Homo sapiens: one gene and its partners. The protein of the gene in region 2 interacts with the protein of the main gene of each other region in a biochemical or structural test. Each region holds a gene or a part of one and is shown on either strand. Other genes may lie near its edges. The genes, in order: SPI1, IRF4, YTHDC2 and STAT6.

Region 1 (7,310 bases), on a different chromosome or scaffold from region 2:
CAAAGAAGTCCTGGGAATCATTTATTCTTTTTCTCTCTCCAGACCCCAGGAGCCCAGGCTGGGCTGGGGGATGGGGGCGTGGCAGGCCCCGTACTCACCGCTATGGCTCTCCCCATCACTGCTGAGATAGGGGTAATACTCGTGCGTTTGGCGTTGGTATAGATCCGTGTCATAGGGCACCAGGTCTTCTGATGGCTGCTGAGAGAGGAGGTGTCAGGGCCTGCACCATGGTGGGAGACCCCAGCCAGGCCTGCAGCACCCCCGCACGCTGGGTCCCCATCACCTTCCCTGGCTCAGTGGCTGCGTTGGACCTACAGCCCTCCCTCTGCCTGGAACTGGGACAGAGAGTGGGGCAGGGGACCCAGAAGGCCTGAAAAGGGGTGACAGGGACCTTGGGGGTGAGAGGTCAGAAGAGGACCAGGGTCCCCCTCTGCTGGGCTACTCCCCATAGCCACCTCACGCTCACACTCACACTCACGCCTGTGTGCCCCCATCCTCATCCCACACACCTCTCCTGGTCACACTGATGCACATGTCCACACGATCCCTGTGTCACCCTCACACTCATAATCCCACACGAGGACTCACTCTCACAGCCCCTACCCACCCCCATGCAGGCGCCTGCACACTATCCCTCACACACACATCTTCATACCCACTCAGAGGTCACCCACCTCACAGAGACATTGTACACTCAGCTCATGCACACACGCAGAGTCTCCTTGATTGACACTCACATGACACCACGTTCCAGCCATCAACACACACACTCACACCCCCAGAGCCACTCACATTCCACCTGCACACTCAACCGCACAGCACACACTTGCCTGCCCAGCCCCACTCTCACAGCCTATGCCTCTCACACAGCCTGGGCAAGAGTGGCACCACAATGACCCTCCACACTGACGGTTGGTGCAGGGGTCACCCAGGCAGACTTAGGGGCCGAGCGCATGGAGGGCCTTGATCCCCTCACTCTCCCTCCTGAGTCCTCCCTATCCTCCTCCTTCCCTCCTCACTGCATCCCCCTCCCCGTCTCCTTTGCTTCCTCCTCCCCCTCCTCACTCCCCTCTGTCCTCCTTTTCTTCCCCCTCTTCCCTGTCCTCCTTCTTTCCTCCCACCTTCCTCCCTCCTCCCTGTCCTCCTCCCCCTACTGGCACAGACACAGGGCCGTGCACACCCAGGAGCCTTCCCAACAGTCATCAGGCCTCCCCGCCCCCGCAGCGTGTGGCCCAGGATTGCATAACAGTCACTGTGGCCCTTAGGGCTGGGCTTGGGGGACCGGGGCTGCCTTGGGAGCCCACCCTACCAGGAGACACTCAGAGTGACCCTGGAGCTTGCAGAGAGGGCTGGGGGTGCCTAGGGATGGCCCAAGGAGCTCTGCCACCCATCTAGCTCCACCTGGAGTTCAGAATTGAGAGGTCAGGGATCAGAGACAGTGGGCCTGTGGCTTTCTTGAGGCAGAATTGGCTCTTTCTGAGACAACCTCCGTCACCCTCTGCCTGGGCCGCCCACTTCGTGTTCCCAGGTGGGAAGGGGTGTCGGTGTGGATGCCACAGCAGGCTGGCTGGTCCTGCCTGGTCCTGCCTGTGGCTGGCCAAGTGAGGAGGCCAGGAGCCCAGCACTGAGCCTGCCCCTCTGGGTTTCCAGGTAGTACAGCCTCGCTGCAGGATGTCAGCCCGGCTCTGGTCGGGTTGGTGTGATGTCAGGCCTGGGGTGCCTCCCAGCCTCCTGGGGTGGCTCTGAGCCAGGGCATAGTGGGGGAAGGGAGCTGCCTCTAGACCAGGAAAGTGGATTCAGGTGGGCAGCCTGCCAAGCCCTTCCCGGCTCCCCTCAAGCCTCCTCACTCCTGAGAGGTCATGGGGTGGGAAAAGGGAGAAGGGTCCTTTCCGAGGGACCCTGGTCTGACACCTGCCTAAGGCTGCAACTGTCACTGAGAGTGAGGAGCAGTGGCGATCTGCCCTTCTCTTCTCGGGGTCCCCTGGGGCTCCCACTTCTTCACCCCCAAGACCCAGTCCCTGTCCTTGTCCCAGCCTCAGCCCCCATTCTCACTTATCACATGCTCACCCCAGGTCCCACCCAGCCCCAATCTCAGTCCTGGCCTTGTCCCAGCCCTGTCCCCTGCCGCGCCTCTCCCTGAACTCCAGCCCTGGGGCCAGCCCTAACTGCACTGTCTCAGCTCCACTCCTGGCTCCTTTCCAGCACCAGTCCCTGTCTCCTGTGGGTACCCCTGTGGGCCCATGGCCCTGACCCTTTGGTCAACAATCATGTCCTCTGTGCCAGGCCCCAGACTGGGCGTTGGGGACCCAGAGTTCCATCAGCTTTGGTTTCCAGGAGCCCCAAGGCCATGGGCCAAGACTTCTGCCCATTGCCTCCTGCCTTCAACCCCTTCCCATCCAGGGGACCGGCCTCCCCCAAGCCAGTCCCCCCATCTCCCTCCTCTACCTCTCTACCACCGCCTTCACCATCCTCAGCCCAGCACCCTCCCCAGGAGCCCCGGCCTCCGCCTGCCACCCGAGCCCTGTCTATAAATAACTGTTCAGGCCCCACCGATCACAGCCCCACCGTGGGCCTGGCCTCAGCCCGCCAGGGCATGCTCCGAGGAAGCCAATGGCCCCCTCGCTGGGTCTCAGGCCAGGAGTTCCAGGGAGGAAACCCTGACTTCCCACTGATAGCAAGCCAGGAGGGCAGTGGGTGGGCTGGCGGGTTCGTGGGCAGGCAGGCAGGCGTCCGAGGGCCACGGGTTGGGCTGGTGGAGGAGTCCCGGTACTCACAGGGGGGACGAGGGGAAACCCTTCCATTTTGCACGCCTGTAACATCCAGCCGGGCTCCGAGTCGGTCAGATCCCCTGCCTCGGTGGGGGCCAATGCAGAGCCCCTCAGGATGGGGTGCCCCGTCAGGGGCTGGACGGTCGTGGGGCGGGTGCAGGGCTCAGGCCTGCCCCCTGAGCTACAGGAGCCCTGGGTGAGCCCCCTCCCTTGACATTGCAGGGCCAGCACAAGTTCCTGATTTTATCGAAGGGCCTGCCGCTGGGAGATAGTCCCCTTGGGGTGACATCACCGCCCCAACCCGTTTGCATAAATCTCTTGCGCTACATACAGGAAGTCTCTGGCCGGCTGGGGCAGGTGGTGCTCAAAGGGCTGGCCTGGGAAGCCATGGGGTCCAGGCCCCCTGCCCAGAGGAAGCTGGGACTGAGAGGGATGACTTTGGGGGCTAAGCTGGGGAGGGAGGATGGGAGGGAGAACGTGTAGCTCTGCCACACCACTGGGAGGCTTTTGCTCTAACCCAACAAATGCCTGCTTCTTTTGAGATCCCTATGTAGCCAACAGTCACCTCATTGGGGTCAGAGCTGGAAGGGGTGGCCTCTTGGGGCCTCCACTTTCTGGAGTCAGCCTTCCTGGGTGAGGGCTCTGATCTAGCAGGCTATCAGGCCTGGCTCTTCCTGTGGCCCTGCACCCCCACTGCCTAGGCTATCCCTAGGCTGAGGCTGGGCTCAGGTGTAGGGTCTTCAGCATAGTGCTGCTTTCTTCCTTCCCTCTGAATCTGTTCACATGGGCTTCCCTACCACCAGAAGAGGGTCCTGGGTTCTTATACCCTCCCCTCCCAGCTTCTTGATTACCACATTCAAATCCCTAGGGCTCTGTTTCCAGCCCAGGTTTCTCAGTTTCCCCATCCCTTGGCAATGCCTGAATATCAATCTAACCCTCCTGGTTTACAAACCTTTCTTGCCTATCCACCATTCATCTGTTTTCCCATGCATCTATTTGTCTGTCTATTTGTCCATCCAGCTATCCATTCATCAAGCCCACCATGCATTCACTTATGTGTCCATTTATCCAACTGTCCGTTTGTTTGTTCATTCATCTGTCAGTCAATTCATCCACCCACCCATCTGTTTATCTACTTGTCTATCTAACCATCTATATGTCCATTAATCAGCCCGTCCACCTGCTATCAGTCCATCAGTCCACAATTCCATCTGTTTATCCATCTATGAATCTGCTCATCCATTCATCCACCTGTCCATCCATCCACCCATCCACTCATCCACCCATCTACCCATCCACTCATCTGTCCATCAACCCATCCATCATCCACCTACCCCTTCATTCATTCATCCATCCATCCACCAGTCCACTCATCCACCCATCTACCAATCCACCCACCTACCATTCCACCCATCTATTCATCCACCTATCCATCCATTCACCTATCAGCTTCGGTTTCCAGGAGCCCCATGAGAACAGGCAGTATTTGACTTTCTGTTTCTGCGTTGTTTCGCATATGATAATGTCCTCCAATTCCATCCATGTTGCTGCAAAGACATAATTTCATTCTTTTTTATGGCTGAATAGTATTTCATTATATATATATATAAATACAATATAACATGTTATTTATTCACTCACCCGTTGATGGACACTTATGTTGATTCTGTATCTTTGCTATTATGAATAGTGCTGTGATAAACATACAAATGCAGTATCTTTTTGGTATCACTCATCCATCCAGCCATCCATTCATCCATCCATCCATTCATCCACCTATCCACCCATCTACCCATCTACCCATTTACTCATCCACCTGTCCACCAATCCAGCTATCTACCCATTCATCCATCCACTCATCCACCTATCCATCCATCCACTCATTCATCCAGCCATCCACAAATCCACCCATCCACTTATCTATCCATCCATCCATTCATCCATCCACCAATCCACTCATCCACTTATCTATCCATCCATCCATTCATCCATCCATCCATCCACTCATCCACACATCTACCGATTCACTAATCCACCCATCCACCAATCCACTCATCTACCCATCCATCTATCCATCCATCCACTCATTCATCTATCTGTCTATCCACTTATCTGTCCATCCATGCATCTTCCCAATGTTGAGTTCCAGGCTCTAAGCTGAGCGCTGGGAAAACAAAAAAGTATTATACAAGACCCCTGCCTTCAGAGAGTTCCTGATCTTTTCTGGGGGGTGGAGGGATGAGTAGAGGCATTTTTGTTTTGTTGTTGTTGTTGTTGTTGTTGTTTTTCTGGCCCAGTGATCTCTGGTGAGTCCCCTCTGCTGGGAAGGAATTTTGAACATTCAGTGTCCTCCCCTGTATAATCTAACCCCTTGCTTTAAATTCCCACTCCACTAAGACAGGCCTGCCTTCTTGCCAGTGGATTCCTAGGCCACAAGTGTTTTTTCATTAGCAGCAAACACCAGAATTTCACAGCTCTGGGCTCACCATTAGATCTACTTGACTTCCACCTTCACTGACTTTGTATCTGCACTTGGGACTCTCCAAAGGCTCCAGGCCACAGGTCCTCAGGGCTCCCTAGGAACCTGACCAAGGCCTCTCCCAAAAAGGAGGGGAGGGACAGGTTGGCTTGGCATCAGTTCCATCCTTGTTCCCACTTCCCCATCAAGAAGGCCAAGCCCCAGCTGACTGGGTGCAGTGGGGTGTAAGGTTATCCACTCCACAAGATCTAGGCCCTGCTTGATGTGTTCATTCATTCACTCGTGTGTGTTATTGTCTTGCTTTGGTTTGTTTATATGCTTATTTATTCATTCATTCATTTAATCACTTTTTTGTATAAATGTAAGGGGTACAAATGCAGTTTTGTTCCATGGATATATTGCATAATGGAGAAGTCTAGGCTTTCAGTTTATCCATCACCAGAATAGTGTACATTGTGCCCTTTAAGTAATTTCTCATCCCTCACCATGCCTCCCCACTCTCCCACCCTTGCAAGTCTCCAGTGTCTGTCATTCCACATTCTATGTCCATGTGTACACATTATTTAGCTCCTACTTATACATGAGAACAGGCAGTATTTGACTTTCTGTTTCTGCATTGTTTCGCTTATGATAATGGCCTCCAATTCCATCCATGTTGCTGCAAAGACATAATTTCATTCTTTTTTATGGCTGAATAGTATTTCATTATATATATATATATATATAAAAATATAACATTTTATTTATTCACTCATCCGTTGATGGACACTTAGGTTGATTCTGTGTCTTTGCTATTATGAATAGTGCTGTGATAAACATAAAAATGCAGTATCTTTTTGGTATAGTGATTTATTTTCCTTTGGTTAGATACTCAGTGAGATTGCTGGATCAAATGATATTTCTTTTCCTTTCTTCTTTTCTCTCTTTTTCTTTTTCTTTTGAGACTGAGTTTCGCTCTTGTTGCCCAGGCTGGAGTGCAGTGGCACAATCTTGGCTCACTTTGCCTCCCGGGTTCAAATGATTCTCCTGCCTCAGCCTCCTGAGTAGCTGGGATTACAGGCGCCCGCCACCACGCCCAGCTAATTATTGTATTTTTAGTAGAGATGGGGTTTCATCATTGTTGGCCAGGCTAGTCTCAAACTCCTGATCTCATGTGATCCACCTGCCTCGGCCTCCCAAAGTGCTGGGATTACAGACGTGAGCCACCATGCTTGGCCAGTTCTTTTTCTTTTGAGACAGAATGCCACTTTATCACTGAGGCTGGAGTGCAATGGCGTGATCTTGGCCCACTGTAGCCTGGACCTCCTGGGCTCAAGCGATCCTCCCGCCTCAGCCTCTGGAGTAGCTGGTACTATGGATGTGTGCCACCTGTAGTCTCATCTAATTTTCTGTATTTTTTGTAGAGATAGGGTTTCACCATGTTGCCCAGGCTGATCTTGAACTCCTGGGCTCAAGCAATCCACCTGCCTCAGCCTTCCCAAATGTTGGGATTATAGGTGTGAGCCACTGCATCTGGCCAAAAGGTAGTTCTGTTTTTAGTTCTTTGAGAAATCTCCATACTCTTTTCCGTAGAGGTTGTCATTTAATCACTTACTTTTTATTGAGTGTCTTCCATGGTCTGGGCCTAGTAAGGGGGATAGACATGAATGAGGCATACTCGGAGCCTCCAGCAGCTTACAGGCCTGCAGAGGGTCATGTGAGCAGATAGTGGGGCAAGAGAGGAGGTGCCAGGTACACTTGGTCTCAAAGGTGCATTAGGGAACCATTGATTGGGTCAGGGTCCCAGATAGGATGGCTTAGGGAAGCGTGCAGGGGGAAAGCATGTCTGGCTGAGAATCAACTTAAGCAAAGGAAACGAAGAGGAAAACAGGAAGCCACCATCTTTGCAGCTGGAAGCAAAGCAGGACAGGAAAGCAAAGAGCCTTGAGTGCCAAGCCAAGGAGCCTGAGTCGTGTGCAGGGATGGCTGTGGAGTCTTTGCTGGTTGTAAGCAAGGAGTATGGGGGCTGTCCTCCGTGGGTGCAGCCAAGAAACACAGTAGACTGTGTGTTCCCGAGGCCTAAG
Region 2 (7,023 bases):
GAGTCCCCGGCTCCTCCTCCTTTAGTGTCGCCATGGCTGATCGCTGGACAGCCAAACAAACAGAGGAGCGTGGCACAGAGGAAGGGAACAGATAGTTAAGTACTTGGACAGAAGGGCAACAGTTCAAGTATTAAGATTTATGTTCCTTAATTTCTTCTTCTTTATGCGAAGAATTTTAGCATCTCTAAAGAATGAGGGTCAAAAAGATGCAGAAACAAGAAAACTTAACCATTACTTAGACATTACTAGATTGTAGGACAGACAAAAATGTCCCATCCAAGAGTAGCGCTCATGTTTTTTGACTCAAGAAAATAGGAAGTTTACTAACTGGCTTCCAGGAAAGGCCAAGGAGAGAAAGCCAATGGGAAGGAGGGCGGGGCAGAGGGACCCACACCAGGAAACCGCTGGCAGGTGGGGGATGGGCCTCCCCAAGGCTACAGGCACGGCTTCAGTCAAAGATTCATTTCCTTCACTCAGCAAGTGTCTTCCACAAGAACTGCAGCTCCTACATACATTAATACATTTCTTTTACGTGTGAGGCTTCTTCAATTTACATCTTACTTCCCTGAGAAATGGCACAGACATACCTACAAGCAGTCATCACTCTAGTCAGTGTCAATACTGAAAGGCAAGTTTTCTCTGTCTTCCAGCAAGACCTAATCTACAACAAATTAAAGAGCGCATTTCAGTAAATGTAAACACATCACTTGGTCAATTTTCACAGTGATCATCAATGATGGCAGTCTACAGAACACAAGAAATGCAAAGCCACCCTTCCTTTTGAAATAAGCTCATCTGCCAATCAGATGTCACTGATTTTCCATGCTTGTCTCGCCGCAATTCTCCTCAACCGCTGAACTGAAATCTCCACTTCTGAATTCCTCAAAACAGTAAGAGGGCAGTCAATTGGACGCTTTCACTAAAGTCAAATATTTACAATGAAAATCACTTGTCTTGGGTGGGTGCAGTGGCTCACACCTGTAATCCCAGCTACCAGGGAGGCTGAGGCAGGAGAGTCTCTTGAACCCAGGAGGCGGAGGTCACAGTGAGCTGAGATTGTGTCACTGCACTCCAGCCTGGGAGACAGAGCAAGACCCCGTATCCCCGTATCAAAAAAAAAAAAAAAAAAAGGAAAAAGAAAACCACTCATCTTGACATTTTTCATTCTTGAATAGAGGAATGGCGGATAGATCTGTGGTAATCTTCTGGATTGCTGATGTGTTCTGGTAAATCGTAGCCCCTCAGGAAATGTCCACTGTTTTGTTGAGCAAAATAATATAGTTGTCTGGCTAGCAGAGGTTCTACCTTTAATAAGAGATTTTAAAAAGACATTACTGAGATATCCTGCAACTGGCTCACTATTAAACAGCACTCAGATTCTAAGGAGACAGTAACGTAAAGCCCAAAGTTACATCCTAGAACACATCAAAACATTTCATATTTGGAGCCATCTAAAGAAGCAATTTTTTGGTTAGTCCTTCCATAGATCAACATGTAAAAAAACAGCCAAAGTGACTTAATTCTGGGTTAAAGATGTTACTTTCAAATCGACTGCCACTTAAAATGTACATTTAACTAAAACTGCATCAAATCAAGTAAAGTGATCAAATTAAAAGGAAGTCTGAGGGAATCTGCAGGGTAATTTAGGCCAATGATTTTGTTTTTCCACAACTGCAGTTTGAAAGAAACAAGGAGCTCATCCTGAATGATTTGATTTCTAGGTAATCTGTATAGTTCTCAACCAGAGGTAAAAGAAATAAAAAGTAAAGTTAAACAACAACAAAACTACTATTGTGGAAAAAGAGAAGCTAACTGGCCTCAAATTTATACTGTCTGGTTATTAGCGTGGATCACACTCACCAAAAAACAAAAACGCCTTAATGTTCAGCTTTTCCTGAATTTACAGCATCTAAGGCAAGCTGAATGCTCTCCATCAATCATGATATTAGAGACTGTATTTTATATATGACGACTTAAGCTAAACTCCTAAGTACCTGAAATGAATTAAATTAATAATTTTTAAAAGTGGAACTCATAGGTGTACACGTGTGTTTATTCATTTTATGGACCACGCAGCCTCGTCTTCAGCATGAGGGGGTCATCTGGGGATCCATCTTTCCCTGACTTAGAGGACAGTGACTTGCATCCATGTCAACTTTAAAACTGGATTGATGTGATAGCTGAGCTGATCATCAACTTCTTTTTTTGTTTTTTTTTTGAGACAGAGTCTCACTCTGTCACCCAGGCTGGAGTGCAGTGGTGCAATCTCGGCTCACTGCAAGCTCTGACTCCTGGGTTCAAGTGACTCCCTTGCTTCAGCCTCCCGAGTAGCTGGGATTACAGGTGCGCACCACCACGCCCGGCTAATTTTTGTATTTTTAGTAGAGAGGGGGTTTCACCATGTTGGTCAGGCTGGTCTCGAACTCCTGACCACATGATCTGCCCGCCTCAGCCTCCCAAAGTGCCGGGATTACAGGCGTGAGCCACTGTGCCCGGCCGATCATCAACTTCTTAAATGCTGCTTATCAATGCCAAGTTTATTTAGTCATTTAGCAATTCCTGTTGTTAACAATGTATCAGTTATTATTTCAACAATCATATCAATTATTAAGTCAATCACTGGAGAGAACTCATGAGAAAACTCCTGAGTCTATGGGATTATATACTGGTTGGTTGGCTGGTCTTTGTTTTTAAAATCAAGAAGGGGGGTTGTATGTTCAAGATTAAACCATGTTTCATTTCAGTTCTCAATGAGAAATAGCATCAGAGCTAGAACATGATGAGAACTTTGATGTTAGGGGGTGTAACTTTTACCTGGTATTGCTCAGCATGCAAGCCCGTTAATAATGCTTGCAAGTATGTAGCAATGTGAAGTTTTCAAATTCAAAAGTCTTAAGGGTTCAAGATTCTGTTTCCCATGGCAAATTAATGCTTCATGTTATCTATGGAAACCTTTTCTCATAAAAAAGAAAACTCTAACCCTAATCCTAACCCTACCCTTTTAGTGTTACTTGCCACAGTTGAACCCATCTTGAGCTATGCTAGAGAACATTACGAGAGGGTCTGATTTGCTTGAATTCCTTGAAAGATTCAGCCTCTTTCAAATATCATATGCCCAATAATTAAATAATTTCTAAAATTCCAGAAATAAAAGAGGTGCTAGGACACAGCTGCAGAGACCTACAAAATGCCTCCAGGGAATGGATAGTTTCTCATTTGGGAAAAGCTTTTCCATTGAATGAAGATCCACTAGCTAGATAGCATTCTTACAGCAATCTTAACCTGGAGAATTTTAAAGGGCAACTTTAACCATCAATCTTTTTCAATCCCTATAAAATGGAAATACGACAACTTTCCTGAAAAATAAAAAAGATGGGGAAAGAGGCACCCTCCTTTGAGGCTGTCCTCCCTGGTTCTTTGATGAGCAGATCTCAAGTCTGGGAGGAGCACGTGAGTCCTCAGACTGTGCTGCTCGTTGGACCATGCTTCCTCCCTCACTAGTTTAAGGGTTACGCTTATTTTTCCAGGTCATTTGACATTTACTTTTCATTTGGGACTTTTCTAAATGAAACTCTGGCCTTTACAAAGAACAGGAAGCCACTATGGTAGGAGTGTAACTGAGGACTCACGTGAGCTGTGATGAGCTTTCTTTGCCTCTGAGGGTCTGGAAACTCCTCTCCAAAGCATAGAGTCACCTGGAATCTTGGCAGGGAGCGGCCGTGGTGAGCAAACGCTTGCAGCTCTGTAGAAGCCCACAAGAAAGAGACCATGTTCAGAAACCCTCATCACCGAACACACCAGGTTAAACAGGAAGCAAGAGCTTACTGTGATTCTGAACACTGCAAGAGGAATGAGCACTCTTACTCCGCTGAGTGGGGCTCTTGATGTGAACATCTCAGATACAAAATAGCATGTATGCATTCCTTTGGGTGCTTTCCCCCCAGGGCCCTCGGTCTCCCTCGATTCTTCAAGAGGAACTAGTCGACAGCTAAAGAACACTGCTTTGCAGCATTGGACCCACGAAGATTCAAAAGGTAGTAGACCACAGTGAAGTCGGGAGATAAAGAACAAGAAACGTAGTCACGCAATGGCAAAAGACCAATTTATGCCATGGACAAGTTTTCATTTAAAAAATCAGAATGTTTCGACATCCCAGGATCATTTTAAAACCTCATCCCCTCACTACAGAGCCCACATAATCCAGTATCTGTGCTACTGCGGACATCCACGTAACTCAGGCACCACAGAAAATATGTAACGTCAACGTGGTGACTGAGCACCAGCCATCGGCAGCTGAGTCCCACTGTCACTATGCCTGAACTGTGTAACTCTGAGTAGACTTCTTGCCTGTCTCCAGGGATGGAACAGTAACTTGACTTGAGAACAGGAGTGGGGCAGCCCCCCTGGCCTCCCGCTTGTGGATATACACATGTACATCCTGAAGCCACCACACCTACCCAAAAGATACAAAACGGACTGGAACATTGTTGGAAAGACAAGTGCCCATCCCCTGACTTTAGCCCATGCTCCCTCCCCTGTACACAAGACAAATCTTCTGCCTGTAGCTACAATAAAATGTCACGCCCGCAAAAGAAACGAGTTGACACAGGAGCCGCTACAGCTTCTGCAGAACAGACGCGTCCTTATCAGATACACACCCTCGGGCCGGGCCCTGGGGGCTGTCCCTAGTGCTGTGCAGACCTGAATAGGAAGATATCAAAGATCTCCACTGTTCTCTTCAACTGAACAGAAGTTTCTAGCTAACTTACAGGACTATTTGACTTCCTGCTTTTTTTTTTTTCCAGAATTCAAATCAAACCCAAATGACTTAGTCAGAATCTGTAAAATACATTCACACTGCCGTGATCTGAGACTACACCTACACAGGCTAATCAGAATGGCGAGTTGGCACAATTCTCTGAGAAAGCATGGCTCCAACCCTAGATAACATGAGAGTGTTTGGTGGGAATCCTTAATTATGCAGAAGCTGGTTGGCACAGCTGCAGTTTTTACGTTCACAGCATCCTCCTTGAACCTCAGTGAACACTTTGAGGTGAGAGGCTGCAGTGGGCAAAGAGCACAGCCCTTGGTTACAGAGGAAGGAATGAAAGCCAAGACCAGCTCTTGCTCACAGATTAATAGTAAGTTCTAGTCGCGCAAGTCTACAGCCCCAGGACACTCACAGGCGTCCACCCCCTGCCTGTGCTGTCTCTCACGCAGTGCACCTGTGACTCAATGTGCACCTTCCAGCTTAGTCACCACGGGGGCTCTACCTCCCTAAAAACGCCCAGCAAGAGGCACTCAGAAAAGCCAGTGCCAGTTCCTTGTGACACTTTCATTAGAAAGCCCTCACCTTGTGGTATCTTCTGAATCCACTGGCACCAAGGTCCAGAGTCTTCAGAAATCCAGGCCCAGTGGGCCTTAGCCTTCCTGGCCCATGTGAGCTCTTCCAGATCCCAAGGCAGACACAGGAGATGCTGACAGGGGAGGGGGGGTCCCCCCAGTTGCCCTTCAATTTCCTTGGTCCCCCATGAACACCATGCCCAACCCCAAGAAGGATGGGACCGCCCTGGCCAGGGCTTGGGGATGGTTCTGCCCTTAGAATGAGAGGTGTCCAGCCCCAGGTGACTTCCTCACTTGCCGCCGCCTCGGGGAACCAGCACAGTTCTCCCTCTTCCTATGGTCAGCCTCTGTGTGAGCTTAGTTATTTTTTTGTGGTGCGGGGGGCAATGGAGTCTCGCTCTGTCCTGCAAACTGCAGCACCGTGGTGCGATCTCAGCTCACTGCAACCTCCGCCTCCCACAGGTTCAAGCGATTCTTGTGCCTCATCCTCCTGAGTAGCTGGGATTACAGGCGCCCACCATCACGCCCAGCTAATTTTTGTATCTTTAGTAGAGACGGGGTTTTGCCATGTTGGCCAGGCTGGTCTTGAACTCCTGGCCTCAAGTGATCTGCCCACCTCAGCCTCCTAAAGTGCTGGGATTACAGGCATGGGCCACCACACCTGGCCTGAAGCTTAGTTATCTGGGGACATATTTGCTTTGGGCACCAAAAGAAAATCTGGATGAGCTTACAAAAACTTGGGTCACTTACACCCAGAAGTACGAGCACATGTCAACAGTGCCAGAGCACACAGACGTGTCATATTTTTATTTTAAATAAGTTGAATGAAGAAGCACATTCAAGAAAAGGGGAGGCACATGAGAAATCAAAGACACAGGAGTTTCTGAAGGGGCTCAGGAAGGGACAGGACTGGGAAAAGGCAGAGGAAGAGTTGGCGGTGGGGTGGCGAGTGGCGGGTAGAGCAGCTCCCTCCCACGCGGGAGGCTCCCTCCACCTGGACAGCCCCACAAAGCCAGTGAGGAAGCCCAGCATGACAGGGCGAGGGGCTTCACAGAAGCCAGCCAGAGGTTCGCTGAATTGTCATGAAATCCAAGGTAGAAAAACAAAACTCACTGGTTCTGAAAAATATGCTTAGAAATGTTCATATCACAGAGCCAACTTATAGCACTCTCCTATAACTTCTCCTGTGCAAAACCAGTACAGTCCACTCCACCCTCCGTCTCACTCGTGGGCCAGCATCTGCATGAGGGTGACACACCTGACAACCAAGAATGTTAACAATATGCTTCCAACCTTTATGATTTTTCTGGGAACCTGAAAAGAGCCGCCACATCAGCAGACGTATTTGTCGAGATCATAGTGCAATGAAATGGAACTGTTTTAAGAGGCGACTGCTGAAAACCAGAATTGCAAGAGAACAGCCTGAGCCATGGTCCACCTGGACCATCTGATCCGGACTCTCTGCCCACAACAGAGCCAGACAGAAGATCTCTACTGGAGTCAAGCCCCAAGCCCAGTGGGCGCCGAAGTCAACAGGAGGAAGACCTCAGCCTGGGGTGGGAGGGACCCTGTGGTTTCTGACCCCTGTGGCAGGCAGGCCATCACCACCTCCATTCTAACAGATAACGAGGTGCCTTACCTGACAAGAACTGCTGTGTGTCAAAGAGCTTGCAGGTCTGG
Region 3 (7,612 bases), on a different chromosome or scaffold from region 2:
AAATTTTATCCTTTTCTTCCCTCTATGTCAGTAGTTCTCAACCTGAGCAATTTTGCTCTCCAGAGGACATTTGGCAACCTCTAGAAGCATCTCTGGTTGTCACAACTGGGGTTAGGAGTGTTAGTGGCATGTAGTAGTAATGGCTATGGATGCTGTTAAACACCCTACAGTACACAAAACAGAATAAAGAATTATCCAGTCCAAAATGTCAATAGCACCAACAGTGAGAAAGCTTCCTTTACATTGATCCCACCATCCTTATTAACAAAATGAAATAGCGCCACAGAATTTTAGAGTTTTTCAATTTGGATGGCTCAAATGACTTTTCCCTCAATGTAACTCTGTGATCCTCCCAACAAAACAAAACAATTTCCTCCTGTACCACTTTTTAAAATCATTTCTAATCATCAGATCCTTGACTTGGTAGGAAAGAAAACAATGAACATATGCTCTAAAGCTTATTATTATATTGCAGTAACAGTAAAAGAAGTAAGTTCCATAAATAATTGCAACTATCTTTTGTACATCCATTTTTCAAATGAGATTTCTATCAAAAAATAAAAATATTTTTCTCAAGCAATCAACTTCAACTTTTAAACTATTTTTTTCTTACATCTTAAAATTTACCTTTGAAAGAGTTCACGGTATGCCACCCAAAAATATGTCACTCTGCCATAAGGATTATTTTGAGCTGAAGGCAATCGAGAAGAAGCAGACATAAGAAAAACTCCGCCTTCCCCTGCTTTACCAGAAAGGGAAGGACTATTCTTAACAAGAGAAACCACTCTAGACTCTTAATAGAGACAGCACCAGGGGAACCTACATAACCAACCTTGCTAAAAGAACACATATCTTCCATTAGTTTCCCCACATATACCTTCCCACAATTTACTGCACCTACAAGTTCAAAGTCCTTTTCCTTTGTCTTGTCATTTTTTAAATAAATTCATTGTTCTTTATTAAGATGCCACATAAGCCCCATGTTTGAGTTACTATCGAGTTCTCCCCTATGTATGCATGATGCATGTCTTAATAAGCTTATGTTTTTCTCTTGTTAATATGTCTTTTATCAGTCTAATTTGCAGGGTCCCAGCCAAGGAACCTAAGCTGGGTAGAAGAAAAAGCATTTTCCTAGGGAAAAACAAAACAAAACAAAAAAGGGGGGAAGAGGTAGACAGAGGGAAGAGGAAAGAGTTGAATTTGGTACAGACCTGAATCTTTTATCTACATATGATACAATTAAGAATGTGAAGTTAAAACAGTAATAAGTACTTAAATGTACTCAGAAACGTTTCTCCCTTTTTTGGGCAAATAATCTTTTTTAAAAAAAATAAGAAAAGCTACCAGCTTACCCTTTACTTTTAGAGACCAAACCAAGAGACTGACTGAGTCGATGAATAAAGGCTCTTTCAGTACTGGTCAAAGAAGAAGGAAATTCCATTTCTACACGGAAAAAAAACAAAGTAGTAAAATTTGTAGATAGGCAATTTTCTCTCAAGTAAAACACACAGATACAAAATATGAAAAACATACATAGACAATCAAATTTATTATACTTTATTTGAGGTTAACTTTATATTTCATATTCTATTTATGTAAATTAATAAAATTAAGATATTTTATTAATTCAATAACTACTGAATGTCTATCAGAATTCTGATATTAATAAAAAGACAGCTATGTATTAAACCTAAATGTGATAAAGGCCTCTGATATTCACCAAAAACGACTCCTCTTACTTGTTCTGGAATTTTGAGTTGGTATAATGACTGAACATATTTAACTTGGTCCCTACTTGTTTAGTTAACAAAATGTTTATTTTCTTCAATGATGAGATATGTTCAAATATTATGAATTCTCAACATGAAACTCCATTGTCTTTGCTTTCAAAACTGTACAGAATTCGTATTTCACTATTTCAGAGGGATTTGTTATATATTGCTGAGGCTTTCTCTTTTTTTAATGTGAATTTAGAATCTCTCTGTCTAGAACATTCCCCGTTTTGGACTATAAGATTCCAGAGTAAGAGGTCCCCTAACTAAGCCAGCAGGTCCGAATGAGCCCTCAACAGACTGCACAGGTCACCGCAGGTCAGTTGCTGGTTCTGCATTATATGACCCAAGACAAGTGGCTATCTAACCTCAAGAGGTGTGGAAGATGCTTCGTGTGCCAAACAAGTTTAATTTAAGTGGGTAGCGTGATGCTTCAGGGTCCAAACGTATTGCTGGTGCATTTATTTATATGTTTGATTTCTTTCTGCTCTTCTACATCTGTAGCTTAAACGTGCCACAATTAGGTGACACCCCCTTAAAAAGGGTTAGGGCTAACCAATATCTGAAACACGGTGGCTTAACCGCCCAAGGCTGCTGAAAGACGCGGGGGAAAAACACTTTCAGCTAGGGAGCAAAGTGCCCATAACCCCATTGATCCGCAGAGCACCTCGCATTCCACCGCAGGGCCAACAGCCGCGTTCCAGACCCGGGTGCCGCCGCTGAGGCCCGCCCCGGACGGTGGCCCGGGTCTTCCCTCCCTCTTCGGAGGCACCCCCATCACTCGGTGGGCCGCCGTTTGGGGGGCGCTGGGGTGAGGGGGGTATCCTGACTGCCAGCATGGTCCCTGTCCGGAACCTCACCTCTCTGGTCCCCGTATCGGAAGCGCTCCAGCGCGATATTGACTGCGATCTTCACCTCCTCATCAATGCGAATGTCCTTCAGCCCCTTGGCCCGGCCGCCGCCCCCAGGGCCACAAGGCGAGGGGCCGCCGCCTCCGCCACCGCCAGGAGCCGGCTGCCGCGGGGAGACGCTGCTCGGCCTGGACATTGCCCTGAAGAGATGGTCTCTCCGCACGGGAGCGGCCAGGCCTGCTAGCTGACAGCCAATGACAAAGACCGTGGGAATCCGGGGCCACTACCGGGAAGCTCCGGAGACGGCCTGTGTTGGGCTGAGGTCACCAGAAAGGCCTCAGTCACCGCCACAGCAGAAGTGAAGCCTGCGCCATTGATATCACGGCCAGGCGAGGAGCGCGGGCGTAATGACGTCACCAGGGCCGGCGCCCGTGACCTCAGCGCGGCCGCCGCTGCGCGCCTAAAGGAGGCTGTCTGCGGAGCTATGGTGCGGTTCTCTTCCCGCGCCGCCCACCAAGGGTCGCTCCTCATCTTCTTATTCACTCACTTGCTACTTCGTTTAGTCCTTCATTAATTCCTGCAGTAAGCATGTATGGGCTTCTACTGTGGACCTGGCATTATGCCACGCCTTCGATGTACATTGGAGAACCAGAGAGCCAAGGTTCCTACCTTCATGGAGTTTATATTTTAGTGGGAGGAGGGTTGCCAGATTTAGCAAATAAAAATACAGAATGCTTAATAATTTGCATTTCAGATAAACGAATAATTTTTAGTGTATATATTTCCCATGCAATATTTGGAAAAATATCATAAAAAATACATATACTAAAGAATGAGCCACTGTTGTGTGTCTTGCATTCTTCCCTTTTCTGAATGGGAGATTTTAATGCAAGTATGCCACCCTTGCTCTATCACGCTACACAGGGTAGCTGAGTGGGGGCAGGTATGTAGTACATATTTACATAGTTCATGAGTTACCTGGCAATGAGGATATACATCTGGATCTAATAAAGAGGACTGTGTATCAACAACAGATCCTGGATGCAGTGACTAGATAGAATTCCAGGTGTCTGGGGAGGGTATATGTGTATTCTGTGTGTGGTAAGAAGGGGGCGGAATATTTGGTGACAAGAAGTATCTTTTCTTCCTAGGCATTATATTTCCCAACTCTCCTGCAGTTAGCTGGGGGCCACATGGCTGAGTTCCGGCCATTGGAATGTTGCTGGAACTGATGTATACCACTTCCAGGATTGGTCTATAACACCTTCCTTGAATCTTCCCTTCTCTGTCTTTCCTGGTCTTCTGGAAGTTCTTAGACAACGGTGGAACCACTAGATAGATAACAGGTTCCCGATTCCCTGAACGAGTGTGATAGAGTGTCCTCACCAACCCACATTGGAATATGACATGGGTAAGAAATAATTCTTAGTTGTGGTAAACTGCTGAGATTTGGGAAGATTTTTTTTTGTAACATTATGGTAAATTGTTGAATTCATCAAAGGTATGGCCTTTGATGAATCACACATTCCTCTGTTCACACCCTTGTATTCTTCCTTCCCACATGGACTCTGTCTTTGGCTATGTAACTTGCTTTGGCCATTGGGACATCAGCAAATACGAGATAAGCAGGGGCTTGAAAGGTGTTTGTGCATTAAGGCTTAGCCTGTTTTGCTGCTGAGAATTCTTCTTCCACAAAGTAAAGAAGCTTAGGCTAGCCCACTGACAACTATGGCCCAATCATCCACCAGCACCAAGGGCAAGACGTGAAAAAGGCCATAATGGAAAGTCTAGTCTTAGAAAAGCTGCTGGATGACCACAACTCTGTAAGCAACCCAAAGCAAGATTAGCAAAACCACCTAGCTAAACATAGTCCAAACTGTTGACCCACAGAACACATAAACAAATAAAATGAATATTGCTGTAAGCCACTAAGTTTTAGGTTGGGTTTCTTACACAGCAGTAGATAACTGATACAAAGAGTTAGCTTATTCTGACTAATATATTTGTACAATGATAAGGCTGATCTTGGGCATAAGTGACTAGGCTGAAAGAACTAGCTTCACCCGTTCCAGTTTGTACCCAGTTGCCTAAGAACTGGGGTCATCAACATCTTGATATGCCTGTAAACAACTTGTGGCATACGAGCATGCCACAGCACAGTGGTCTGGAGACTGCTCTCTTCTCATCTATAAAATTGACCTGGTAGAGTAATAAAGTCTTAAAATATAACCAACATGATTTTATTATTGATGCTAGGGATATTTCCTCCCACCCTTTGCCCCCTCATCACCCCTACTTTGCCAGCCCTCCATCCCTTTCTCTCTTGTTCAGCCAGGTCATTTAGGGGTTATTATTTGGGGAAATATTGTCTTAAGTTGGTTTCGGTTCTCTGGAACTGGAAAAAGTCACATAGTAATACACCAGTAAGTTGCCAAAAAGGATCCTGAGCCCTGCTTCTCTTGGGGAGAACAAAACAAAAACCCTGAATGGTGTGGGAGATCCTGGAACAGAATGGCCTGTGCTACTTTCCCAAGGGAAGGCCAGAGAGGCAGCTCAGGAAAGAAGGTAGTGTGGTGTGCCTAGGCAGGTGAGGCGCAGTGTGGTATAGAGCAGCAAAGGGTTCCTGGTGCCCAAGAGGTGTCCAGAATTGGCAGAGATATGCCAGACCTGAAGGAATCGCACAGTTGAGAATAAGCAATGAATGACTTAACGGTGACTTATGTTGTTTGACCACCAAGGATCAGAAACTCTTTCCCACACTTACTGATGCCTTGATACTCCGTAAGTCCCCCAGAACTTAAAAGCAAGCCTAGGCAAGAGTGGCAGCCCCTGAATTAACTGAGGTTAATTACAGAGAAACTAAGTTCTTTCATATCTAAATCTATGGAATAAAATTTGTACTTAAGTAATTGTAAAACTACTTCCAGCGCTATCATTTTATATACATATCATAATATAGATGCCAAAAATTGGTATTTTTCTATACCCTGTATATGTGTCTACCTGTCTACACATTAATCAGCTTCAATGTATATTAATATGGTTAGCCACAAGGTGACACTAGAAAGCTATCTTTTGCTTATGGTTCTAGGTCTTGACCGTCATTGATTTTCATAAACGGCTTCTATGAAGTATTGTATTAACAGTAGTAATCCCTTCCAGGGACATTTTCATTTTAATAAGGGAGATGGCAGCAATGAGGTTAATAGGAGGCAATGTTCATATTTTAAAATAATAAAAATAAGACTCTCTGGAACAGGCTATCAACTAGTTTTTATTCTTGCTCTTCTTACCCACTCTCATGTGATAGGATATCCCAATCACTACAAAAAATATCAAACACTAATTTATTCAACATCCATAAATAAAAAATGTAAATAGAAATAGTCTGTTAGATCTTGGAGCTTAAAATTTAAATGACTGTTTTTACAGAATGTGCCTCAAAAACGTCTAGAACATCCTTAAACCATCTCCCAAACACTAAAAGCTCAGTCCAAAAATGTGAACACAGTAGGTCAGCAAATACATTGTGTAACTCACTGAGCAATTGCTATCTTATGTTGGGGATGACTGAGAAGAGGAGGAAAACCATCTCTTCCAGGACGTCTTGCTTATTTGATTTATAAAGGAGATGCAATTTAAAGGATTGCTTAGGAAAATAGGAAGAAAAGGTTTGGAAAAGCTCACAGGGAAGAACTTTTTTTTTTTTTTGAAACAGAGTCTTGCTCTGTTGCCCAGGCTGGAGTGCAGTGGTGCCATCACAGCTCACTGCAAGCTCCATCTCCTGGGTTCATGCCATTCTCCTGCCTCAGCCTCCCAAGCAACAAGGACTACAGGTGCCTGCCACCACATCCAGCTAATTTTTTTGTATTTTTAGTAAAGACAGGGTTTCACTGTGTTAGCCAGGATGGTCTCGATCTCCTGACCTTGTGATCCACCAGCCTCGGCCTCCCAAAGTGCTGGTATTACAGGCATGAACCACCACGCCCAGCCCACGGGAAAGAATTTTCTAAGCAAAGGAGTAGTATATAAGAGAAAGTAGCATGTCACAATCTCGAAAGCCCCTCATTGAGAACATGGAAAGGCAGGTTGAAGGGACCAAAGAAGAAAGCAGTGACACTAAATGATCAATGTGGATCTAGTCTATGGTCAGATAGCAGAGGAAATTTACCTACTGGGAAGTGGAACCATTGCATGGTTTTGAAGACAGGAGGGATATAAATTTGTCCGTTGGCATATGTCCTTATGGAATTTTAAGGAAACCATGCCCTTGGGATGCATCAAGAGTAGGATTTTAAAAATCAAGAGTAGAAATGATGACACTTTAAAGAATTTAACTGTAGTAGTAAAAAGAATCAGGTGAGAATTTATGAGAGGACGCTGCAGAACTGGGAGAATGAAGACCCCTAAGTTTCTCCTTCAGGAGACTTTTAAGAAGAACTCAGAGACGAAGAGGGAGAGTCTATTCATGGAGTTGTCTCCTGGGACCCTCTGAAGAGAACATCAAAAACCCACTGAAAACAAAAAGATTATTGCTAAATATTTAATGTTTCTGTTTTATGAAAGGATTCAGTTTTTAAACCATAGGCAAAATTTACCCATGCAGATAGCTAAAGAGGAATTGAATACATTTTTCCGTTGCTTGACAGTGTATTCATATCCCACAAAATAAGGATTTTATTTTCCCCAGGGCACACTTAGTATTTCGTAAATATAGTACTTTATTTCTTACTGATATTTTTCTTCAAAATATTCACAAGCAAAATTGTGGTAATCACTGAATTGTTGTGATGGTTATACTGGTCTTCTTTATACTATTCTTTTTACTTTGGGGTATGTTTGAAAATGTTGACAATTTTTTAAAAAAATCGTTAAGAGTCTTTCTAGCCCCAAACTGTATCAAGTTAGTAAACCTACTTACGCATTTGGGATAGGTTAAGAAAGAAGTGTTCTTTCAGGACATGCAACTACCTGGTTTGATTGGATCAT
Region 4 (7,107 bases), on a different chromosome or scaffold from region 2:
AAACTTGGCCTATCTCCTGGGGCAGCCAGGGACCTCCCATAGATAGCCCTCCTAGGGACCGTCCCCACCACCACTCATGGCCAGACCACCTTAAACCAGGGGCATCCTGAGTCAATGCCTGAGATGGGGGTAACTCCTTCAGTGATAGACACAGGGGTGGGAAGAGCTGAGCTGTAGCCAGAGGGATGGGGAGGCAAAGGGAGACAGGGCAGTAGAGCGAGAGCTCTCTTAGAGTGGCAGAGGATTTAGTTGCAGCTCTAGACCTGGCTCTGGTTCTGTGGGCAAAGAGCCTTCCCTTTGTGGGCTTCGATCTTCTCATCTATAAAATATGAGTGTTAGATGAGTGGAAAACTTTCCAAACTTTTTAAAGCGGTAGGCAATGTCAGCTTTTAATCTGTGGAATCTCAATTACATAAAAGGTACGAAACCGAAGATGCCCTGTTGAAAGCAAGCATGGAAAGCCTGAAACTCGACTGCTTCTACTTCCCTCTCCCCACCTCCTGACGCCAAAGGCATCCCTAGACAAACCTCTCAAAATTCTAGGACTCCATGAGATAATTTGAAAACCACAAGGCTCGGCCAGGCGCAGTGGCTCATGCCTGTAATCCCAGCGCTTTGGGAGGCCGAGGCGGGCAGATCACGAGGTCAGGAGATCAAGACCATCCTGGCTAACACAGTGAAACCCCATCTCTACTAAAAATACAAAAACAAAATTAGCAGGGCGTGGTGGCGAGCGCCTGTAGTCCCAGCTACTGGGGAGGCTGAGGTGACAGAATGGCGTGAACCTGGGGGGCGGAGCTTGCAGTGAGCAGAGATCGAGCCACTGCACTCCAGCCTGGGCGACAGAGAGAGACTCTGCCTCAAAATAAATAAATAAATAAATGAAATAAAATAAAAATGAAAACCACAAGGCTAGATGATGAAGAGGATGGGAGAGTAATAACAGCTACTATTTGTTAAGCACTTACTGTGTATGAGGCATTACACTCAGTGTATTATCTCCTTCAGGCCTCACGACACTTTTTAAAATATATAATATCCCATTTTATAGATGAAGAAACTGAGGCTTAAGGAGTTTCTCTACTCTGCCCAAGGCCACTCAGTAAGTGAGTTTGGAAAGCAGGCTTTGAATCTGAGTGGGGATTAACCATCGCACTGTGTTGTTAGGATCCCTTCCAGGGGCAAATCTGATCATCCTAAGAAGTGGGGGAAGGTGGGAGGAGACTTGAAGGAGGAGAGGTGGAAAAGGAAAGTAGAGAGAACTAAGGAAGAGGATGGAAGAGACTGGAAAAAAGGCGGGTTTAGTAAGCTAGGAGGAAAGAGCCTAGAAGAGAGAGGAAGCTGGAGGGCTAGAAGGCAAAGATGAGAGACGAAAACAGGTAGAAAGGAGAGGAGGGGACAGGGAAGTAGAAGAGGGGGTTGCATCCCCATTTCCAGGTTCAGGGAGGACTGGGTAACCAGTGGTTTCCCAGGGGCCTCTCAGTTCACGTTTCTCATAATATCCCTCTCCCAGAGATGAGGGAGAGGATGGGATGACAACTCCCCAGGTCTCCCCAAACCCAGTAACCCCAAGTCCTCCTGTTGCACGTTCAGCCTCTCACCTCTCCCAGGCCTCTCAGAGGGATGGAAAATGGAGAGGTCCCTTCTCTGGACGTTTCTGCTCCAAGACCTTCATGCCCCTCTTTCCTCCAGTGCCCACTTACCCCAGCTCTTTTCTCCTCAAGGCAGAATCCTTACCCCTCCTGCTCAGGTTCCTCCAATAGGCCTTTCTCTAGCCCAAGAGAGAAAGGTCCTCTGGAGTGAGTGGGCACCGCTTTCCTCTGCATCCCCTTGCAGAGTGACCAGCCTCCTGGCATGGCCCTGGCTAGAAATATCCAACCCCTCTTCTTCCCCAGCCATCAGGAGGACACATTTCTCCCCACCCCAACCCATAACAAGGCTGGGTCGATTGGCTTGACCAGGACAGGGGCACCTTTTGTCTTCAGCCCCTTGAAGGGGAAGGGAGGGAGGAGCCACGGCGTGAGGGGCGGGGCCAGTGTTACCTCCCAAACTCAGAAGGGAAGCGCAAGGTCTGGGATCCTCGTCCGCCCGCTTGGTGGCCTAAACTCGCTTATCTCAACCCCTATCTGCCCGAGTCCTCTGATTGTGGGACCACAGGATCGAAAGTTAAAACAGCTTCTCTGAGTTGCCCAATGCGTGAATGTGGCGGTGGGGGCAGGCGGGGAGGTGGAGCCAGTTCAGCACGAGGAGGGTTAACTCGGCGCCGCCGCTGGGAAATCTCAGCGTCTACAGCAGCCAAGCGTGGAGCAGTTTTGAGGGGGAAATTCCCCCTCGTCTGGGCCACCATGAGGTCTACATCTGGGGCTTGCTCACGCCCCAGCCACACCCTTGAACAGGAACCTTTAGTGGAGGGCAGGATAGGGGTTTAACAAGGATCCACTGCCCTCTGGCATCAACCTTCCAGGGAGGGGCGGCCACTTCCCCCGACTCAGGGCAGAGGGGCACTCCTTCACCTCCTTTCCCTGACTTTCCATGGCCCTGGGGGTGCAGGGGTGAGGCTGTGAAAACGTGACCCATGGGGGAGGGGAGTACTGAGGCCTGGACCCTCCCAGATTCCTCCAGGAGTTCGAAACTGCTAAAACCCAGTGCCACCAGCCACCAACACTAGCTGAAACCATCTCTTGGGGACCATCCACCCAGCCAGGGGAGGATCCCGAGAGCTCCCCCCACGAATCCACCCCCATGCACTCATAGAGGCCCCCGCACCCACCTCGGAGGCAACCCCTCACCTCGGCAACCCCTCTGCTGTCTTCTCCCTTTCTCAGCGGGCACTTCCAGGCCCCATAGGTCTGTAGCTCTGTCCAGCGAGTTCAAGGCTGGCCCTGCTAGCACCTCCCCCCTTCCACCACCACCACCAAAAAGAAAAATAAGATAAAGCACACACATACATACACACACACACACACACACACACACACACTCCTCTCCCGTCCTCCCTCTTCAGTGTAAGCAGTGGCTGCCCCAGCCCGCTGTTTCCGGCTTCTCCTTCTACCCAGGTCCCTCCCTGGAGCTCTGACGACACAGAGAAGAGAAAGTGGGCTGGAGGAGGAAGAGGAAGAAAGTGGGGTGAATATGTGTGCCTCCTGTGCCGAGTGGGGGAACACGTGGGGGATCAGGACTGGGGTCCAGGCCTTGGAGCCAGGCTTGGGGGGAGGCTGACCCCCACTTACTCTGTCCCCCTCAAAAGCATCAGCTTTTCTCCAGAAAGTCACCCAATATCAAACAGAGATTTGCCACCCCTAACTGCCTGGCTCCCAAACTCAAACTCTGCCAAGGGCTGGGGTTTGGACCCACAAGGGACTGGGCTCCCCAGGGCCTCAGGAAAAGTAAATCCCTCTGGACTCTGCGCTCCCTCCAGTGGAGGACCCTAAAAAGCCGCCAGGGAGCTCGATGCCAGCCAACTCCTAGGTCCCCCTCCCTTCCGGCAGGGAACGCCTTAGAGGTCGGTCTCGTGACCACTGACGGGAGGGAGTGGGGGAGGGGAACCCTCAGCTCAGAATTCTGGAAGACTCTAGGAGTCCCTTGGACTGAAGCTGGTCTTTGCTCTCTCCTCACAGGGCACCCCTCCTGAGACTGTGGTGGGAACCAGCACAAGCCGGAGCTGCTGCCTGCAGATTCACAAGGGGCAAGTTTGAATACGAATCTGCTGTGTTCCTATCTGCCAAGTTCCTATATGTTTCTGGGGTAAACACTGAGACACGCCAAGAAACAAACACACACATGCACAACTTCCCTGACCACAAGACTACACACACACACACACACACACACACACACACGTGCAGGCAGGCTCACAAACAGAGCCCATTGCAATCACAACACCACACACACACACACACACACACACACACACACACACACACAGTCTTGCTCAACTTCTGAGTCATCAACATAACTAGTGGAGGGTTCTGCAGTTTTTGCTGGGGGAGGAGCTGGAGGAGACCAAGGGATCCAGAGAGGCCTTTACTCCCGGACACCTGAGAGCCCCGGTGTGTGGAAGAGGTGGTGTCTGAGGGGCGGTGGGAGGAAGTTTCTACTCCCCTCCTCCCTCCCATAGCAGGGGCTGGGCTGAGGGGCCAAAGCTAGGCCTATGCTGCCCCCTGGTGCCTGAATTGATTTCCAGAACCAGCTCCTCCTCCTCCATCCCTTGCTACCCCGCAGGTCTGTACATGAGTGCACGTGTGTGGACCCAGCCAGGCAGCAGAGGGTTTGAACACAGCAAAATATAGCAGTTAAAAGACTGGACTGTGGATACAGGCTGCTTGGGTTCAAATCCTGCTAATGCTGCTAACCACACAACCCTGAGCAATTTACTCTGTGATTCATTCTCGTCATCTGTAAAATGGAGCAAATAAGTCTTAACCCATAATGTGAGAATAAAATGCAGTAAAACATCTGAAGGCTTAGAACAATGCCTGACACACAGTAACTGTCAGGCACTATTTTTATGGTTCATAATAAACCAGGTATGAGGAAAGGAGAAGGGTCTCCATCCTACATAGAAGTCCCCAGATTTGGGGGTCATGTTACTGCCAAAAGGATATTGAGGGTGTATGTGCGTATGTGTTTGCTGTGTCTGCAGGACAGTGAATGGAAGAGAAGGGAGAGCAGGGGTGGAGGTGGCAGGCAGGGACTCTGTCCATTGGCTTGTCCAACAAGCCATGCTAGGATCAAGGTGTGTGCACATACGTGTTCACGGCACACGTGCTTTGTATGTGCTCCCGAGTGCCCACTCTGCCTGCAGACATCCACAGACAGTAGGTGAAGCCAGGTTTCACCATCTAAGGGTGTCAGAGCTACAAGTCCCCAAAGACTTGGAGAGGAGGAGGGAAAAGAGTAAATGTGATCTCTGACTTTGGCTCCTTTTAGGGGGTAGGAAGGCGAGGAGCAAGTACTGGTAGAAAAATAGTATATATTACTCCCTCTGTAACTGACTATACCAATGGGAACACTGTGATGTAAGGGGAAAAAACAGAATTTAGAGGCAAATCTGGCTTGGGTATGACTCCATTTAGGAGGTTCACAATCAGGTGTCAATCCCTCAAATGAGAATAATAGTTATACCTACTTCAACAGAGTCTAGGCTAGGGTAAAGTGCCTAGAGTATGAAATTTAAGGAGATACTCATCTTCAGATTGTACAATTGCAGGGTCTGTCAGACCTTCATTAATGACATCTGCACCTGCATGACTGTGAGGGTGACTGTATCACCCTCCCCTGGACCTTGACATCCCATTGAGTGGTGGTAAAGATTGCACAAGAGAGGCTCACGCCTGTAATCCCAGCACTTTGGGAGGCTGAGGCAGGCAGATCACAAGGTCAGGAGATTGAGACCATCCTGGCCAACATGGTGAAACCCCGTCTCTACTAAAAATACAAAAAATTAGTCGGGCGTGGTGGTGCGCGCCTGTAGTCCCAGCTACTCAGGAGGCTGAGGCAGGGAAATCACTTGAATCTGGAAGGCAGAGATTATAGTGAGCCGAGATCAAGCCACTGCACTCCAGCCTGGTGACAGAACAAGACTCCGTCACACACACACACACACACACACACACACACACACACACACACACGATTGCACAAGATAAAGCGTAAGGAAAAAATAACTTTATGTCTATGTACTGCTGGTTACAACCCAATAGTGAGTCACAAAATCGATTTGGTGAGTGTATCAGTTTGCTAGGGCTGCTGTAACAAAGTACTACATATTGCATGACTTAAACAACAGAAATCTCTCAAGATGCTGGAGGCTAGAAGTCCAAGATCAAGGTTAACCTGAGCAGGATTGATTGATTCCTTCTCAGGGATGTGAAGGAAGGCTCTATTCCAGGCCTCCCTCCTTGGCCATTTTCACGTTCACACACTGTTCTCTTTGTATGCAAGTCAGTCTCCAAGTTTCCCCTTTTTTCAAGGATACCAGTCATATTGCATTAGGCCCCATCCTAATGGCCTCATTTTAACTTAATTACCTCTGTAAAGACCCTATAAGGGGGTCCTTCAAAATAAGGTCACGTCCTGAAGTACTTGAGATTAGGACTTCAAGAGAATTTTTGAGGAACACAACTCAGCCCATAACAGCATCTTGATCAAGCACAATGGCTCACACCTGTAATCCCAATACTCTGGGAGGCTGAGGCAGGAGGATTGCTGGAGGCCAGGAGTTCGAGACCAGCCTGGGCAACATAGCAAGATCCCATCTCTACAAAAAAAATTTAAAACAAAATTAAAAACAAAACATAAAAAAAAACAGTGTCTTGACCTTCACTCTTTGAAACTGAAGTAAAGGCCAGGCGCAGAGGCTCATGCCTGTAATCCTAGCACTTTGGGAGGCCGAGGTGTGCGGATCATCTGAGGTTAGGAGTTCAAGACCAGCCTGGCCAACATGGTGAAGCCCCGTCTCTACTAAAAAATACAAAAAATTATCTGGGCACAGTGGCATGTGCCTGCAATCCCAGCTACCTGGGAAGCTGAAGCAGGAAAATCACTGGAATCCGGGAGGCAGAGGCTGCAGTGAGCTGAGATTACACCCCTGCACTCCAGCCTGGGCAACAGAGTGAGACTCCATCTCAAAAAATAAAAAATAAAGTGAATAAAATTAAAAAATAAAACTGAAGTAGAATAGAACAGTACAGAAAATATCAGAAGGCATCAAGCGAAGTAAGGATAAGTATTGTTTAATTAAACTTTTGTTTCAGCTTTATATATGTATCTGAATTCTTTTTTTTTTTTTTTTATTTGAGATGGAGTCTCCCTCTGTCGCCCAGGCTGGAGTACAGTGGCGGGATCTCGGCTCACTGCAACTTCTGCCTCCTGGGTTCAAGCAATTCTCCTGTCTCAGCTTCCCCAGTAGCTGGGACTACAGGCACATGCCATGACACCCAGCTAATTTTTGTATTTTTAGTAGAGACACCATATTGGTCAGGCTGCTCTCAAACTCTTGGCCTCAGGTGATCCACCCACCTCAGCCTCCCAAAGTGCTGGGATTACAGCCATGAGCCACCACTCCCGGCCCTATATGTATCTGAATTCTAAGTCATGATAAAACAT

What was found.
Region 1: the proteins of IRF4 (region 2) and SPI1 are reported together in a solved structure, tested with the Homo sapiens proteins (2 studies listed by BioGRID, with this or other methods).
Region 3: the proteins of IRF4 (region 2) and YTHDC2 form a complex in vitro, tested with the Homo sapiens proteins (one study listed by BioGRID).
Region 4: the proteins of IRF4 (region 2) and STAT6 form a complex in vitro, tested with the Homo sapiens proteins (2 studies listed by BioGRID).

Annotation. Positions count from the first base shown.
Region 1 is NC_000011.10:47,375,535-47,382,844, forward strand, and holds the start of SPI1 (transcription factor PU.1), read right to left. Parts: upstream 3,014-7,310; 5' UTR 2,820-3,013; coding exon 2,775-2,819; intron 199-2,774; coding exon of another isoform or gene 196-198; coding exon 99-195; intron 1-98. UniProt on the Homo sapiens protein: Pioneer transcription factor, which controls hematopoietic cell fate by decompacting stem cell heterochromatin and allowing other transcription factors to enter otherwise inaccessible genomic sites.
Region 2 is NC_000006.12:401,737-408,759, reverse strand, and holds part of IRF4 (interferon regulatory factor 4), read right to left. Parts: coding exon 6,983-7,023; intron 3,743-6,982; coding exon 3,630-3,742; intron 1,995-3,629; exon of another isoform or gene 1,861-1,994; intron 1,306-1,860; coding exon 1,162-1,305; 3' UTR 1-1,161. UniProt on the Homo sapiens protein: Transcriptional activator. Binds to the interferon-stimulated response element (ISRE) of the MHC class I promoter. Binds the immunoglobulin lambda light chain enhancer, together with PU.1.
Region 3 is NC_000005.10:113,509,103-113,516,714, reverse strand, and holds the start of YTHDC2 (3'-5' RNA helicase YTHDC2), read right to left. Parts: upstream 3,022-7,612; 5' UTR 2,820-3,021; coding exon 2,633-2,819; intron 1,445-2,632; exon of another isoform or gene 1,444-1,444; coding exon 1,353-1,443; intron 1-1,352. UniProt on the Homo sapiens protein: 3'-5' RNA helicase that plays a key role in the male and female germline by promoting transition from mitotic to meiotic divisions in stem cells.
Region 4 is NC_000012.12:57,108,340-57,115,446, forward strand, and holds the start of STAT6 (signal transducer and activator of transcription 6), read right to left. Parts: upstream 3,024-7,107; 5' UTR 2,790-3,023; exon of another isoform or gene 2,383-2,789; intron 1,951-2,382; exon of another isoform or gene 1,602-1,950; intron 1-1,601. UniProt on the Homo sapiens protein: Carries out a dual function: signal transduction and activation of transcription. Involved in IL4/interleukin-4- and IL3/interleukin-3-mediated signaling.